Regions from separate parts of the Homo sapiens genome. Here region 1 is linked to region 2. The links come from fine-mapping of genetic effects on gene expression. A gene starts in region 2. The other region holds a variant in brackets. All regions are shown on one strand. Distances are between the middles of the regions. Region 1 overlaps RBM47 (RNA binding motif protein 47). Region 2 holds the start of RBM47 (RNA binding motif protein 47).

What was found.
Region 1: its variant is fine-mapped to the expression of RBM47 in whole blood (TOPMed, PIP above 0.99).

What each region holds. Positions count from the first base shown.
Region 1 is chr4:40,572,739-40,581,070 of GRCh38, reverse strand. All of the region lies in intron 1 of RBM47 (RNA binding motif protein 47), which reads left to right. Among named protein-coding and RNA genes, the nearest start is that of RBM47, 53 kb to the left of the region's middle. RefSeq lists enhancers at 3,543-3,742, 3,763-3,932. The variant C/T (reference allele first, on the strand shown) is at 3,978.
Region 2 is chr4:40,624,974-40,633,305 of GRCh38, reverse strand. RBM47 (RNA binding motif protein 47) reads left to right here and starts at 3,442. Exons shown (of 7, transcript NM_001098634.2): 1 at 3,442-3,910. RefSeq lists enhancers at 3,579-3,648, 2,831-3,708, 3,709-4,585.

The DNA of each region.
Region 1 (8,332 bases), 52 kb after region 2:
TGGCCACCTCCCAACCTCTGTGCTCCCACCTCTGCCTCCATTACCAGATTCCAGCCACAGATTCTTGTTCCTGGAATTAAAGCGAAAACAAAATGAACAAACCTGTTCCCGCCATGGGGCGTTTGCCCTTGTTTGTGCCTAGATTGCTCTTTCCCTAGATCCTTGCTAGGCTCCCTGTCTCTTTGTTCAACTCTCAGCACAAATATCAGAGTGGCCTTCTCTCTCTCACCAATCTCTGTTAATCTCTGTCCCATTCCTCTGCTTTATTTACCTCACAACTTTTACCACTGTCTGAAATTCTCCTGTCTCTGCCTTTATGTATTGTACATCCTTTCCCATTCATGTGCGAGCAGTGGTAGGGATCATTCCTCAATATGTGTGAGAGCTGAGCCTAACTGAATGATATGGGAAACTTGCTCAGCAATGCAAGGAAAGAGAACGGGTGGCTGCGGCTGCCAGTGCGTGCTGGTGAATGCAGCCCATGGGCGGTTGGTGGGTTGGGGAATGATGGTAACCAAATTTCAAGGCCTTTAAACCATCACCGTGCTGTGGTCATCGGGCTTTCTCTTCAGCATCCCTCCTAATTATCTGGCCTTCCCACGTGCCTGAGGTTCCTGATCTGGTGTCCACAATGATCTGAGAACTGATTCAAGGATTCTTGGAGCCCTCAGACCCAGGAAGAAGAGAGTTTTTAGGTTCCAAATGAGGAGAGTAAACTTTTTGTTGTTCAGTTTGATTATCCTTCACAACAAAGAGAAGGTACTAGAAACTTGGATGAGGGAGATGAGACAGTGGAAAGGATTCAAGCACACAGATGAGTCACTTGGATTCTAAGAGTTAAAAAAAAAAAAGTATGAGGAAACACATTTAGAAAATATCCATGAAGTGGACTCATTTGACTTTGCTAACTAAACCAAGTTCAACTGAAGGAAAATTTTTTACTGGTGAGAGGTCCAGGATATTTGGCATGTTGGAACTTAGACCAATTCGAATTTATAAATCCTCTAAAAGTAGGCCGGAAGCGGTGGCTCACTCCTGTAATCCCAGCACTTTGGGAGGTCAAGGCAGGAAGATCCCTTGAGCCCAGGAGTTCAAGACCAGCCTGGGCAACAAGGCGAGACCCTGTCTCTACAAAAATAAAAAATAATTTAAAAAAATAGACAGGCATGGTAGTGTGCACCTGTGGTCACCTCTACATGGGAGACTGAGGTAGGAGGATCCCTTGAGCCAGGGAGGCAGAGGTTGCAGTGAGCTGTGATTGTGCCACTGCAGTCCAGCCTGGGTGACAGAGTGAGACCTAGTCTCAAAAAAAAAAAAAAAATTACCCTAAAGTTTACTTTCTCAATGTAATAACTCCAGCAAAGACCCACAGAGAAAAATGCTTCAGAGCTTCTTGGGAATGTAGATTGACTCGTGTATGGAGAAGTGCTCTGATTTGAACCACCTCCATAAGATGGGTAAATTTTCTTCATATCATCTCCCTAAAATAGGTAATCTAGTTCCCACTTAAGTCAGATCTTATTTTTTATAATTTTAATAACTTTTAAATAATTACCCTTAAAGTTATAGAGTTTTACCTAGAGAATCTGAACTAGTTATTCCCATCCAATTTGTTTCTTTGCTATTGCATTTTTTTTTTTTTTTTTTCTGAGACAGGGTCTCGCTCTGTCACCCAGGCTGGAGTATAGTGGCATGATCTCGACTCACTACAACCTCCACCTCCCGGGTTCAAGTGGTTCTCCTGCCTCAGCCTCCTGAGTAGCTGGGACTACAGGCGCGTGCCACCATGCCCAGCTAATTTTTTGTATTTTTAGTAGAGATGGGGTTTCAGTGTGTTAGCCAGGATGGTCTCAGTCTCCTGACCTCGTGATCCGCCAGTCTTGGCCTCCCAAAGTGCTGGGATTACAAGCGTGAGCCACCGTGCCTGGCTGCATTTTTTTTTTTTTTAATTTAAGATAGAGTCTCGCTCTGTTGCCCAGGCTGGAGTGCAGTGGCATGATCTTGGCTCACTGTAGCCTCCGCCTCCCAGGTTCAAGTGATTCTTCTGCCTCAGCCTCCTGAGTAGCTGGGAGTACAAGTGCACGCCACCATGTCTGGCTAATTTTTTGTTATTTTAGTGGAGATGGGGTTTCACCATATTGCCCAGGCTGGTCTTGAACTCCTGACCTCAAGTGATCTGCCCTCCCTGGCCTCCCAAAGTGCTGGAATTACAGGCGTGAGCCATCGTGCCCAGCTTGCTATCACATTTTGAGCACCTACTGTGTGTAGCATTGTGCCAAGCACTTTGTGTGCGTTACCCCTTAGCCCTTACAGCAGGCCCTGCTACACAGCACCATTTACAGATGAGGAACTGAGGCAGTGAGAAGTCATATCTCTTGTCCTAGGTAACATAATAACTCTAGAAGTTAAGGTAGAAGAGAAAATGATAGAAAAGGCCATAAGCAAAGCTTTCAGATGGAAGAACAATGAAATCTAAGTGGTGGGCATGTAGAAAGAAAAAGCTAAGAACACTGAAAATGAATGGAAGTAGAAAATGGAGGCAGAGGGAGGCCATTTATTCTACAATTGTCTATAAGTGTCAGGAGGAAAATCCTATGTGTCAAAAGACAAAATTGCAACAAATTTAGTTTAAAGTTCTCAATTGCTTTTATTTGAGTTTCTAGAATCGGGCAACACTTCCTTCCATATTATAGGAAAAGGGTTCCAGTCAGCCGAGCAGAAGAGCTTGGCTTTATAAAGTAGAAGGAAAGAACTTAAAGTATATTAATTGTTTCAAAGATACTTTTTTTGTAAGGAATGGGACAACAGGAGACAGAACAACAGAAAAATAACATCAGATTACTTTAAGGATTAAAGCAGGGAGTTTCATTATGCCAATTAAAGATTTGAAACTGGCCCATTTAAGAAATTTGGTGTTATTTCTTCGTCCTGATTACTGAGAAGGTCAGACAACAACTTAGTTTCTGTTTTGTGATGTGGAACTTTAGCCTGGGTGACTCCATTTTGATTTTCAGTCTGGTCTATTGGGCCCTAGTTGCAGAAGTTTAGTCCAAAACAGTGACCTCCTATAATTCTTTTTTTCTTTTTTTAAGAGAAGAGGTCTTGCTGTGTTGTCTAGGCTGGCCTTGACCTCCTAGGCTCAAGCCATCTTCCCATCTCAGCCCCCTGAGTAGCTGGGACTACACGCACGCACCACCGCTCCTAGCTTCCTGTAATTTTTATTGGACAGTTTGTTGGTTTCTTCACCAGGGAGTAACACAATGGTACCACATTTATCTAATCTTGAGATATGTGCTGAAGTAGGAAAAAACTCCAGAGTTTTAAACGGTCTGTGATAAGGCAGAGATTTGGGGCTTTGGGTTTCTGGTTTGTTGCATTCCTGTTTCTTTGTGACTATCAGCTTATCCCAGACTTTTTTTTTTTTTAAGTATGAGATACCATAAGGGAGGATCAGGAAAGGGAAAACAGGATTTTTAAAAAAATTGGAACAGGGAATAAATAGCAGAGAGGAACATCCTTTTTTTTTTTTTTAAACAGAATCTAACCAGGTACCCATTATACGATCTGCATTTGTCTGGACTGTCACTTGAGCTGTTCTCTGAGCTGTCTTCATGTAACTATTAACTCCCTGATCTTTCTGAGGCTGCCTGTGTGAGGTGGCAGCCTTGTTTAGTCGGCAAACAAGCTGTTGCTGAGGACTCTTGACAACATGAGCAGGCATTTCCCAGTTTGAGGAAGTCCCTGTGGCCTGTGTTAGATTCGGCCACCAGCATGCACAGAGCTGAAGCGTGGGTGCAGGCATTGGCTAGATGGGGTTCAGCCCCTTTCCCAGAACTGAAACTGGTCCCAATCCATCTCTTGGCTCAGCACTCCAGGAAGGCTATTTGAGGAAGCAAACCTATAAGGAACTAAGAACAGTCATGTGTTCATGATTGACTCACTCAGGGTTTCCTCTTTAGCACGTGACCCTCAGGCCA[C/T]CCATTCCTTGGAGTGGGCTGAAAGTTAATGATTCGTTACTGCCAGGGACGCTTTATTTGAGCAACTCCTTTTTTTCTCCTGGCTTGAGTCACAGGTAGCATTCAGCATGGACTTTGGAGCCAGCCTGTCTGAATCTAATCACTCAGCTCCACCAGCTCTGTGACCCTGGGAAAGTTATTTAATGTCATCCTATCTCAGTTTCTTCATCTATAAAATGGGTATCATCATCATCATCATCAGGATTTCTGTGAATATTATATGAGATAACACATGCAAAGTGTTTACAACAGTGCCTGCCACACGGGAATTTAAAGTATCTAGAAAGTGAAACAACCCTCAGTTGCTAACTTCAAAAATAGAAATGAGCTGAGCTTGCACCTGTAATCCCAGCACCCTGAGGGGCTCAGGCAAGAGGATCACTTGAGGCCAGAAGTTTGAGGCTGCAGTGAGCCATCCATGATCATGCCACTGCACTCCAGCCTGGGCGATAGAGTGAGACCCTGTCTCTTTTAAAAAAGAAAAATGACAAATGATTTCTCATTGTGATGTTAGTATGTTACGTTTGTCTGATATTTTACAGTTTCCAAAATGCTTTCATATATGTTATGTAAGTTGATCACAGGGGCTAGGTAGTAGTTAGAAAGTTTCACCTTTGTAAGAAATAGGCTTGGAGGCCAGGCATGGTGGCTGTTGCTATGTTGCTCAGGCTAGGAGTTCAAGACCAGCCTGGGCGACATAGCAAGACCCCATCTCTACAAAAAAATTTTTTTAAAAAATTGATCAGGCATAAATATGATTGTGGGTGACAGGGGGAGACCCTGTCTCCGCCCCCCCCCAAAAAAAAAAAAAAAACAGAAAAGAGAAAGAAAAAAAGAAATAGGCTGAAGAAAGGGCATAATCTGGGAAAGATAAGGGAAAGCATGTAAGGGATCCTTTCTCAAGGAATGCATTCCATTGCCTGGGGCACTGCCCCAGGAGGAGGTGAGGAAAGATGCCTCTTAGCAAGCTATGTGAGCCTGCAGGGAAGGAACACTTCCCCAGTGTCCGATCCAAAGGAGAACCCTGCCTTGGGTGGCGACAGAACCAGATGAGCTATTAACAATGCCCTCCTGGCCACCAGCACTGGCAGGCCCCCATTTCTTCTGGGCTTCCTCTGGATCAGAGAGCACCTCTGAGATCAGACCCTTTCTCTCCCTGCTGGAGCCAGGCCTCAGGAGCTTGGTAATGTGTGAGAACAAGCACAGAGGAAACCATGAAGGAATCTGAGGTTTCTCTTCAAAAGAGAGAAAATTCCAGATGACCAAATATCACTGTACTCTTGGCGGACAGAATGGCTTCATTTGTCCTTTCAGTGCTAAAACCAGGACAGTCCTGGGCAAACTGGCATGGGTTGGTCACTCAGACACACAGTAGCCCTTATCAAAGTGGTCCAACGGGGATTAAGGACAAAACCATTAAGTATTCAAATTTTAAGTATTCAGTTAACTTGGGGAGACTTCTTTATAGGTAGCTATTCCTTGGTAGTTTTTTTTTTTTTTTTGAGATGGAGTTTCGCTCTTGTTGCCCAGGCTGGAGTGCAGTGGCACGATCTCGACTCACCGCAACCGCTGCCTCCCAGGTTCAAGCGACTTTCCTGCCTCAGCCTCCTGAGTAGCTGGGATTAAAGGGGCCCGCCACCACTCCTGGCTAATTTTGTATTTTTAAGTAGAGACCGGGTTTCTCCATGTTGATCAGGCTGGTCTCGAACTCCTGACCTCAGGTGATCCGCCTGAATCAGCCAAAAAGCTGGGATTATAGGTGTGAGCCACCACGCCCAGCTTCCTTGGTATTTCTTTATAGGTAGCTGTATTAATAACATTCCCTTTGTGAATTACAGTGTCTGTTCAGTGTTTCTGTAGGGCCAGTATTCTTCAATGTAGGGTTTCTCAATCTTGGCACAGTTGATATTTTGGATTGTTTTAAGGGGTTTTCCTGTGCATTATAGGATGTTTAGCAGTATGCCTGTGCTTATTAGAAGCCAGTAGCACCCACCACCAAAAATGTCTTCATGCGTTGCCAGATAACTTCTTGGGGACCCAAATGGTTCCCAATTGAAAACTATTGCCTTGAGGGGTCTATGGCAGCTCCCATGTTTTAGGGGAATTGACCCAAACTGATTATCTTCGTAACCTATCTGATGTTCTCTTCATTTTTTGTTCTTTTCCTCCAGTTTTGCCAATTCTGATGCTTTTTCTTTCTTCTTTGATACAGAGTCTCACTCTGTTGCCCAGGCTAGAGTGCAGTTGTGTGATCTTGGCTCAATGCAACCTCTGCCTCCGGGGTTCAAGTGATTCTTCTGCCTCAGCCTCCCGAGTAGCTGAGATTACAGGCATATGCCACCACACCTGGCTAATTTCTGTATTTTTAGTAGAGATGGGATTTCACCACGTTGGCCAGGCTGGTTTTGAACTCCTGATCTCAGGTGATCTGCCCACCTCAGCTTCCCAAAGTGCTGGGATTACAGGCGTGAGCCACCACACCCAGCCCATTTCCAATACTTTGATAGCTTCCTTGACTTTTTCATCTTCCCTGTCATCTATAATCTTGTGATTACCTATGAGATTCTAAAACATACCTACAGAATACAGGTTTGTCTAACGTTCTGAAAAGAGTCATTCTGTTGAATTATTTTTGGAATCTGGAAATTCTTTCTTCTAACTTTTCAGTTTGTCTCAGTCGGGTGTCCCCTGAGGTTCTCTGGAATCAAACAAATAAAAGTCTTTATTTCTTAGAAAAACCAGAATTAAACTCGGTCTTAACTGAAAAGCTTGTTTCTTCTCATGGTACTAGTTTTACCCAGTCTATTTCTGAAATAATGAGATTATATTTTATGTAAAACTTTAGGAGGAGTTTCCTACACTCTGGGAGAATATTTAGATCTCGGAAGTCTAATAACCCACAACAACTGCAGAGAGGCTGCAGAACGGAAGACCATTTGCACAATCTGGATTCTTCCACCTCGTGCAGTCAGCCCTGTTCTTCCTCATTATTTAAGTGAAAAATATTCTAAACACTGCTCTTCGGTTGCTATGAAAGCTTTGTGGCAAAAGGTCATCTGATCCACCATAGCCTTTAACAAATGAAAATTTAAACCAAAGATGTCTAATACAATTTTATAAAGTTTTACAGAAATGGAAATTATGATTATCTTTCTTAGGAAACTGTTCCAATTTTTCATTACCCTCAAAGTCAAAGTTTATTTTTCTTTCTTTCTTTCTCTTTCTTTCTTTCTTTCTTTCTTTCTTTTTCTTTCTTTCTCTCTCTCTCTCTTTCTTTCTTTCTTTCTCTCTCTCTCTCTTTCTTTCTTGCTTTTCTTTTTTTAGACAGAGCCTTGCTCTGTCTCTTCCCCAGGCTGGAGTTTAGTGGCATGATCTAGGCTTACACCAACCTCTGCCTCCCGGGTTCAGGCAATTATCCTGAGTAGCTGGGACTACAGGCACATGCTACCATGCCCAGCTAATTTTTGTATTTTTTGTAGAGATGGGGTTTCACCATGTTGGCCAGGCTGGTCTCGAACTCTTGACCTCAAGTGATCCACCAGCCTCAGCCTCTCAAAGTGCTGGGATTACAGGCATAATCCACTATGCCCAGCCTAGTTACCCTCAAACTCAAAATTTCATCCTTTTCTTAACTACTGAAGACAATTTCTCTTTATAATATTTACTTTATTTGAACAAATTTTAAGCTAATTATAAAATTAACAGTGGCCCTGGAGAAACACAGAACACAAAGGAGATAATTAAAATCACCTGCAGTCCCAGTACCAGGGATAACTGGAATTAATGTCTTTAAAAAATGCATATAAGATGTGCTTACCAAATTCTCTGGTTAGATTTCTCTTCTTCAGTTCTCAACTAGGGATAGAAAACACTTCTACAATTTTTTTTTTTTTTTTTTTTTTGAGATGAAGTCTTGCTCTGTCACCTAGTCTGGAGTATAATGGCGCAATGTCGGCTCATTGCAACCTCTGCCTCCTGGGTTCAAGCAATTCTTCTGTCTCAGCCTCCCAATTAGCTGGGATTACAGGCACCTACCACCACACCCAGCAGCTAATTTTTGTATTTTTAGCAGACAGGGTTTCACCATTTTGGCCAGGCTAGTCTTGAACTCCTGGCCTCAAGTAATCCGCCCGCCTCGGCCTCCCAAAGTGTTGTGATTCCAGGTGTGAGTTACCGCATCCGGCCCACTTCTGCAATTTTGTGGTGAATTTTAATATATTGTACTTTCAAATGAATAAACAAGGAGGCTCACAGGAAAATTGAAGAATGCATAATGTTGAAGACTTTTTCATTATTATTATTTTTTAAAATTTTTA
Region 2 (8,332 bases):
TGCACTCACTCCGGAACATTGCCTCATAGGCAGAAGGAAAAGAAGAAAACAGAAAGTAAAAGACAAGGGTCTAGAAAACTAAAATGCCCCAGGAAAATGGAGTGGGCCTAAGAATTAAAATAATTATAATAATAATAAAACAGGCGCCAAGGTTAGCCACAAAAAAGAAATAATAAAAGTTCACATTTGTTTTGCTATAGCCTGCCACTTAGAAAAATCTGTTTTATTTTTGTCATGTTCCCGGGGAGGGCAGTGAGAAATAGGAACAAGAATTATACCCATTTCTCCAGCGGATATGGAGTGCAAAAAAAGAAAGAAAGGATATACCCATTTCATAGGTGTCAGTGGGCAAAACTGAAGAAGGAGCAGGCAACATCTGAAAAAGGGTAACTGACCCTCTTTGAGATGAGGACTCACTTCCTGAAGTGGAACCTGAGCCTCCTCAAGCAGGAGTTTTCCCTGACTCCAGTTCCAGTTCACCTGGAGTCACTGACCTCCACACTTTCAAATTTCTTTTATTTTTATCATTTTTTAAATTTATTTATGTGTTTATTTTTTTTTTTGAGACGGAGTCTTGCTCTTTCGCCCAGGCCGGAGTGCAGTGGCGCGATCTCGGCTCCCTGCAAACTTCACCTCCCGGGTTCAAGCCATTCTCCCGCCTCAGCCTCCCGAGTGGCTAGAATTACAGGTGCCTGCCACCATGCCCAGCCAATTTTTGTATTTTTAGTAGAGACGGGGTTTCGCCACGTTGGCCAGGCTCATCTGGAACTCCTGACCTCAGGTTATCTGCCTGCCTCGACCTCCCAAAGTGTGGGGATTACAGGCGTGAGCCACCGTGCCCAGCGAGAATGTCCCCTCTAGAATCCTTCAGCTCAGACAGTCTGTGACAGCGAGCCTTTTTTGAGGCCATAATCCAGATACTTCTGGAAAAGAAAAGAAAATTTCAGGCTAATATGGAGCTGGGTTTTTTAGTTGTCTTAAGGGGGTGGAGCCGTTGTTTGTGCCTGGCAGCATCAACCCTTAGGTCTGGTGAGGGAACTTAGCTAAGAGAGTTCCCACTGCCTGCTGTTCACAGTACATGCTGGCTGGTATCGACAAAGAATGAACCTAAAACACAGGAAATGTTGAATTTGTCTGGGTTAAATTTTGCCTCATGAGAAGATAAAAGATCAGAAGGATTTAAAATGTTCCAGAATGCTTTGCTGGTTTTAAGGAATCATTTTTCCCAAAGGTGGCAAATGCTGCTTTTTAAATTTATGGTTTTCTTGATACCCCTTCAGCCTTTGTTTCTCTCTCTTAGGACTACTACTTTTTAATTAATTTTCACTTAACTTTCCAATACTGATGAAATAAAGAAAAATGAGGGTTATTTATATATATTTTAATAAATCCAGTTTGATTTTTCAACTTAAAAAAAAATTAACTAGAACTGAGAACCAGTCCTGGCCTCACCACCTTGGACTTACACTTAACCTGTGTGATCTCAGTGTCTTCATCTGCAAAATGGGGACAAAATAGCTCATAGGATCATTTTGTAAGGATCACATAAAGTAAGAAGGGTGAAAGTGCTCCATAAAGTAGAAAGGGCCTCACTAATGGAAAGGGATTATGATTTCTTTCTTTAAATGTGAAGTTAAATGGAGGATAAAGGGTGGAGGCACTGATAACATTTTAGCCTTCAATAATCACTTTTTAATATTTATGAGGAGTTTCAAAATCATTTCCCTCTCTTTCATACTGCTTTTCAAACGGCAAGGGTCATTATTTGTCCGGCCCAGTCTGGGATAAGTAACTATCCCAGGGTAAGACACCAGGTCAAGTGCCAAAATACAAATGAGAATTAAGCATAGCAGATGGGTGATTGCTGGGCCCTGAATTTCCTTCCCGTTAGTGAGCTTCATGGAATGCAGGCAAATTTATCTCCATTTCTGTTGTCAATCTTGTAACTTTTAAGTGAGATGAAATTCAGTTGGCTACCCTTTACAGGGACTTTATTTCCCATTGTATTCAAGACTGTCAGCAATGAATATAAACTGTTTGTAAAAATCCCATCGTTAGAATCTTCCAGAAACTGAGGCTGGGAGAGATTAAATATCTTGCTCATGGCCTCACAGCTGGTGAGTGGCAATGCTGGTGCTACAGCCCATGTCTAACTCTGACCACACACTCTTCTTCAGAAAAAAGCCATAATGTAAATAATAATAAGAAGAATAACAACAACAATAACGGCAGCTAACACTGTGTGCTAGGCACCGTTCTAAGCTCTTTGCATGTGTTAACTCAACCAGCAAAGAACCATTTTTGGAACATTCTTTCACTAAAGTAGCCCGGTATTTTTTTCTTTCCCCTCAGCTGAATGACACTGCAACCCGAAATCACAACTCTGTTTTAGGTTCCTGGTGGTGCCTGCTTCCTCTTCTAGTTTGTTTAGTCACAGAATTCGATTCCTGTTGGCCCATTCCGCGCCTACAAACAGGCTTAGCGCTCCACTGAAATGCGGGAGGCTCCTTAACTCTTGTATAAACAGGTAAGGCGGAGGGGGTGGGGCGCGGATTGCGGACATCTGGGTTTCTTGGGAATTGGGATGGGGTGGGGGTTCGAGCCAACTCCCCAGAGAGCAGGCAAGGTGAAGCGAGGGCTTGGCTGCTGTTTCTAAATGCAGTGTTTTTTTGTTCCCTTTCTAGAAACCCTCCGTAACTCTAGGTCAGAGCGCACTAAAATGAGCCACTTCTGAACGAGCAGCGCCCAGGCCCCAGGCCCTGCTGCGAAGGCCCCGGCAAAGGTCAGGGCCCCGTCCGCGTGACGCTCCTGCCTGCGCGCGGCCAAGCCATGCTCGGCCCCAGGTAAGGACGCCCCGGGAGCTCGCCCCGGGAGCTCTCCCCGGGCACGCGGGGGTCGCAGAGATCCCACCTCGTCCAGCGACTTGTTTATGGGGGGAAGAAGGGGAGCGGGGCGGTTCCGATCGGCTTGAAATTCAGCAGCAGGTTCCTAATTTCTCCAACGTGGTTCTGGCTGGGTTTCTCGGAGCAGCCCGAAGGGGGCCGAGCGTCTGACTCGGACAGATGCCCCCAGGTGGAGCAGGTGCCACTTCTGGGTGTCTGAAAGGCATGTGACTTTTGGGGCGGGGAGAGAAGTCCGTCTGGTCAAGTCCCCCAATCTCTGCCATCAAGGCCGATTTTCTTTGAACCTTCAGCAAAGGTATCTGCGCTCCTAAAAAACAACAGGAATGTGGCACTGGCCTTTAGCCAGGGGAGGCTCAGCCAGCAGGATAAAATTTCAGGGCAGATTTACGGGAAGTTGCCGGTGTTGGGAGTAAAAATCTGGTTTGGTGAGTTTAAGGGAAGGGAGTAGACGAGAGACAACCTTGCTACTGTGAGGCGGATGGCCTCGGCAGGGGGCGGGCGGCGGGAGGAGAGAGGGAGGGAACCGGGAAGGGCCCGCAGACTAGACGCTGAGCGCTCCCGTGCGCAGCGCCCCACGCAGCCGGGACGCGGCGCCGCTCTGCGGGTGGAACCGCCGCGCGCTCCCGGCCTCGGGAGCTGAGCCCGAGAGAACTTCGCTGCCTTCGGGTCGCCGCTCCCGCTTTCCACTGTGGAATGTGCAGCTTGGGATAGAGAGAAACCAGGGTTTGGGGAGCGGTCCTCCTGGAGACTTTCTCTCTGCAAGTCTCCAAGGTTAAGCAATTCTGACCCACTGGAATTCCCAGAGCCTGGGAGTTAAGCCTAAAACGCTCTGTTGCTTTAAGCGGCGCGGTGGGGAGTCGCTGGACACTCCTTATTTTGGTTTTACATTAAAAAGAAGGCGGACGAGAAGATGTTGTAGGTGACTTCCTAGCTGTGTTAAGTTGCTCCTGGGCTGTGAATGGTGTTAATTTCTGAAGTGGGCGGCTCCAAAAACTTAACAAGGAAAGGTAAGGTGGTTTTTGGTAGTCCTTCTAACTATTGTCCCTTAATCTTACATTTGGGTCCCAATTTTTGAAGTGTATATTTTTTTCTTATTCTTCTCTCTTTAGCTCTTATCCCTCATGCTATCACTCATCTTCTGTCTCTTGGTATATTTAGTGGGAAATAAAGGGTTTATAAAACGGTTTTAAAAGGGTCAACCTCTGGGAAGGCAGATAATCATATACAGTCAGTCCCATCGTGTTTCCTGTAGTGATGAATCTTTTCCCATAAAAGAAACTGATTTTTTTTTTTCACTCTTGAAAATACATGATTGGACCGCCCAGAAGCACAGGTGACTTTAGACTCAGATTATTACAGTGAGACTGAGGAAGCGTCCTGGACAGGAGGCATCTCATTTAAGTGTTAACCAAGGCAGAGGGGGGTCTTCCTGCAGTAATTTACGTCTGAAAGTAACACTCGGTAGAGGTGTAGTTGTTTCAAATTAAAAATTCAGCCTGTAGAAAAGGGTAGGACTGACGAATTATGACATCTGACAAATTAGCAGTTGACCGGATATTTAAGAAATCAGATAAAATAAATGGAAGTGGAATTTTTCAAATAAATGACTCATTTTTTAATTAGGTAAAAGTTCAGCCACTCTTGGGTACTGTCCCAAGGCATAAGTGATAGGAAGATACCATCTTCAAGGTACTTACAGGCCATTACCGACCTGAACTAAAAATCAAACCTTTTTTTTTTATCTGGTGGTATTTTAATGACTCACTGTTTTCTTTAGCAGGAATATAGATTTTAAAATGTATTCTTTAAAAGTTTTAAGGCAAGGTCATACGAATTTCTCAGGGGAGGGAAAGCAAAGGGTTGACAACCCAACATGAAGGAGTTGCCGAAGTTTTGAGCTCAAAAGGTTGGCAATTAGATCCAGAGCATTTGAGAATTGCAGGTGCCGATTCTAAAAGGTGAAAGGTGGTCAGCGGCGTAACACACAACCTCTAGATAAACCAAAGTACTCAACCTAGAGCATAAGAAGAGATCACTTTGTGGGAGTTTGTGTTGCTATTAATTTAAACAATGATCTTTGTTAGATCAATGACTTGAAGTCTTGGAGGGAACTAAAATCAACCCAGTCTGAAAGGAAAACAGAAGGAAAAAAAGAAAGGAGGAGATGGTTTGGTTTTTAATATTTTTTTCTGGTCTGCTTTACCCTTCACCTTGTTCTGATATACACACTGTTGGCCTCTTTGACTTAATTATTGCATGCTGGAAGGATGGGGTCTCAGAAATTTCCCAAGCACCTAGCTTCATTATTAACTTTCAGTATGTGTCAAATGAAGAAATAAGCCTAGCTGTGCCGTCCTTTACCTGGCTAGGTAGGCCATGCTTTAAATTAATTAGATCAAGATATTCTGAATATCAATCAATTATTAAAGATTTATTATCTTCCTCTTGGTTTTTGCGTTTACAGAAGTTTGTAGGATTGAGAATTCATCATCATCATTTTTTTTACCAATCTCTATATTTTTAATAGTCAACATATTTATTTTTGATTCCCCCACTGTGCTGCTTTAAATTAAATTTTGAAAGAATTCTGCCCAAAGCAGTAGTGATACTGAGGATGAAATAAAGACAGAAAGCAAGGGAACTACATGCTTCTGGACACGTGTTCTATAGACTTGCTCTAACTAGTGTTAAAGACTACTCATTTTTTTCCTCACATGATAAGAACATTCATATTAGACTATTTGGTTTACTGTTCTAGGTAATGATTTTTTAAAAGATTGGGTTAAGATGAAATTATTTTCTTACAAAAGGATTTAATTTGCTTTTCAAATTCTGCTCTGAAGCTCAAGATTAAATCATGTCCCAAATGACTGAGCTTTCATTGCTATAGAAAAGCATTTGGCTATTTCAGTAAGTTTCCGCCTCCACATCTTAAGTCTCTTGATTTTTCAGAAAAGGTCAGGGGAGTGGATATAAGCGTGAAGGGAGGGAGATTTTCTTAAAATTGGACCCAGGCTCAAGTGAAACTGTGATTAGGTAATCCCAGAAGATACATAATTCTGGGGAAAAAAAACTCTGAAGAGGGTTTAAGTTTGGGATTCATGAGACTTAGAAAAAGGGTATGCTTAGAATAAAGGTAGAATTTGTGTGCCAAACTTTGATGAAGTTACAATGAAGACATTAAATGCAGCTTTAAGTGCTTGTCACCGTGATTCCAAGCTACAGGTTATATTGCAGTGTTTCAGCTACTGGCCTGATTAGGAGATATATTTTCTTTCCCTCTTGGGAACAGTCTCTGTGTCTTAATGATGATGCTGATTTTCTGGTTTAATATCATAAAAGGTGTGTGTTGGTCCCAACATTACTGCTCCAAGTAGTGGCTTCAAAGAGCAACTGGATAAAGATTTTCAATAATAGCAATGCAGAGATGACCTGGGTTTCAAGATAGGAGGCCTTTGGAGCCTTCAGAGAATTGTCATAGAAATGATCAGTAACTAATTGCTCAGTTGCCACCTCAAGTTGTTGTTTCCATCTTATGCGGGAGAGATTCGGGGGAAATGGCACCCTGCCATTTTTTGTGTGTGGTCCTGAATCATCCTGTTGGTAAAACTCCTGAGGTCGTCTGAGCTGGAGTTCTGATTGCTTCTGTTTCTCTCATAGTTGCTTCCCCGTCTATTCTGTGAGCGTCTGTATGGGGAGAGGCAGTGGGGAGGGCGATCTCGTCCCCTTGAAGTCAATGACCACCTGCTTTTAAGGTTCTCGTATCTTTTGCTCTGAAAAAGGTGTGGGGGAGGAAAACTTTCATTTTCCAGCGAAAGTAGAAAGGGAGAGAGTGTCTAGAGGAATAAACGGCCAAGAAACAGGTAAGTTCTGAATGTGGTCCTAGTGTGGAATTTACCAGAAAGCTCACATGGAGATTACCACTGCCCTCAAAGGATTGCAGGTAAACTAGCAACTGTGGGAAGTGGAGGCTCCTCCTCTCCTTTTGTAATTCAAATGTTCCTAGTGTACTGCAATAGACACTAGTTTGAATGAATTCAAGATATCATCTCTTGGTAAAACCAAAAGTAAACTGATTACAAAAGGCACAAACCCTTCAACCATACTCCCACTGTCTGCCTTTCCTCTACTTTCTGTGTGGTTTAAGTACACCTGAAAAAACAAAACAAAACAATTACAGCTCAGTTTATGTAACTTGCATATTTAACAGGAGCATCTTTTTTGGTTGTTATGAATCTTCCATTTTTGTCATCATAGGAACTTAGTTTATGTAAACAACGATTTGTGGGTGTGTCTAGATGCATATGGTTTATGTGTTTGTAAAGTAAAATACATAAATAAGCTGATCACGTAAAAGTGATTGTGACTATAGTAGCTCTTTTGGTGCACCCTATCAAAGCTTTTAGAGTGGAGTCATTTTAGAAATCAAAAGCACAATCTCTGCTTTTCTGAAGGCCATTTCAGGGAGATGACATCGGGAGAAGACAGAGTGCTAGTGTAACCCTGAAAACCCTTTGTGTTTTAGGAAAATATCAATCTTTTGGTCTCAGGAGATTTCTGGTTCTGCAAAATGTATGCTTTATTTATAGATTACACTCAGCCACATTAATCAAGAAAACAACATCCAGTCTCCCCAAATCACGATATTTGTCTTTGGGGATGCTATATATTTGTGGTTCTCATGAACATGGTGGCCCTGCACGAAGACCACAGTGGGTTCCTGGTGGGTGTACGCTGAATGAGCCTCCTGATTGTGCCTTGCTTCAATGAATTGTCAGTTTTGCTCATATTCCCTGAGTATCCACCAGCTGGGGTGGAAGACAACCCGTTCCCAGACGCTATGGATAATCCACATGTGGGTGAGCAAGAGTTAAGTATATGTACCAATGGGCAGTGGGTGAGTGTACAATGAATGCAGGGCATTGTGCAGCTGAAACAGGAACAGGACGCCTGTACCTGACCAAGGAAATGTCAGCATATTAATATTATAATAAAAAGTATCTACCTTTCAGAGCACTGAGACCTGGCTCAATCATGTTTGTAAAGCATTTCACGTGCCCCAAGAAAAACAAAAAGTACAGAAGTACAAAATGGACAGGGTTTTTTCAGGTGTTGTTTCTCTTAGATCAATTTAATTCCTATTCTGAAAATGTGTATTTGAGCCTTGTAAGCTCAGGTAAACCATTTGTGTTTCAAAAACGAGGGTTCCAAGTTGGTGATGATAATAGCACTGTGACTTTTAAAAAGATGGCTTAGGCTGGGCACGGTGGCTCATGTCTGTAATCCCAGCACTTTGGGAGGCCAAGGCGGGTAGATCACAAGGTCAGGAGTTCGAGATCAGCCTGGCCAATAGGGTGAAACCCTGTCTCTACTAAAAGTACAAAAATTAGCCAGGCATAGTGGCGGGTGCCTGTAGTCCCAGCTACTCG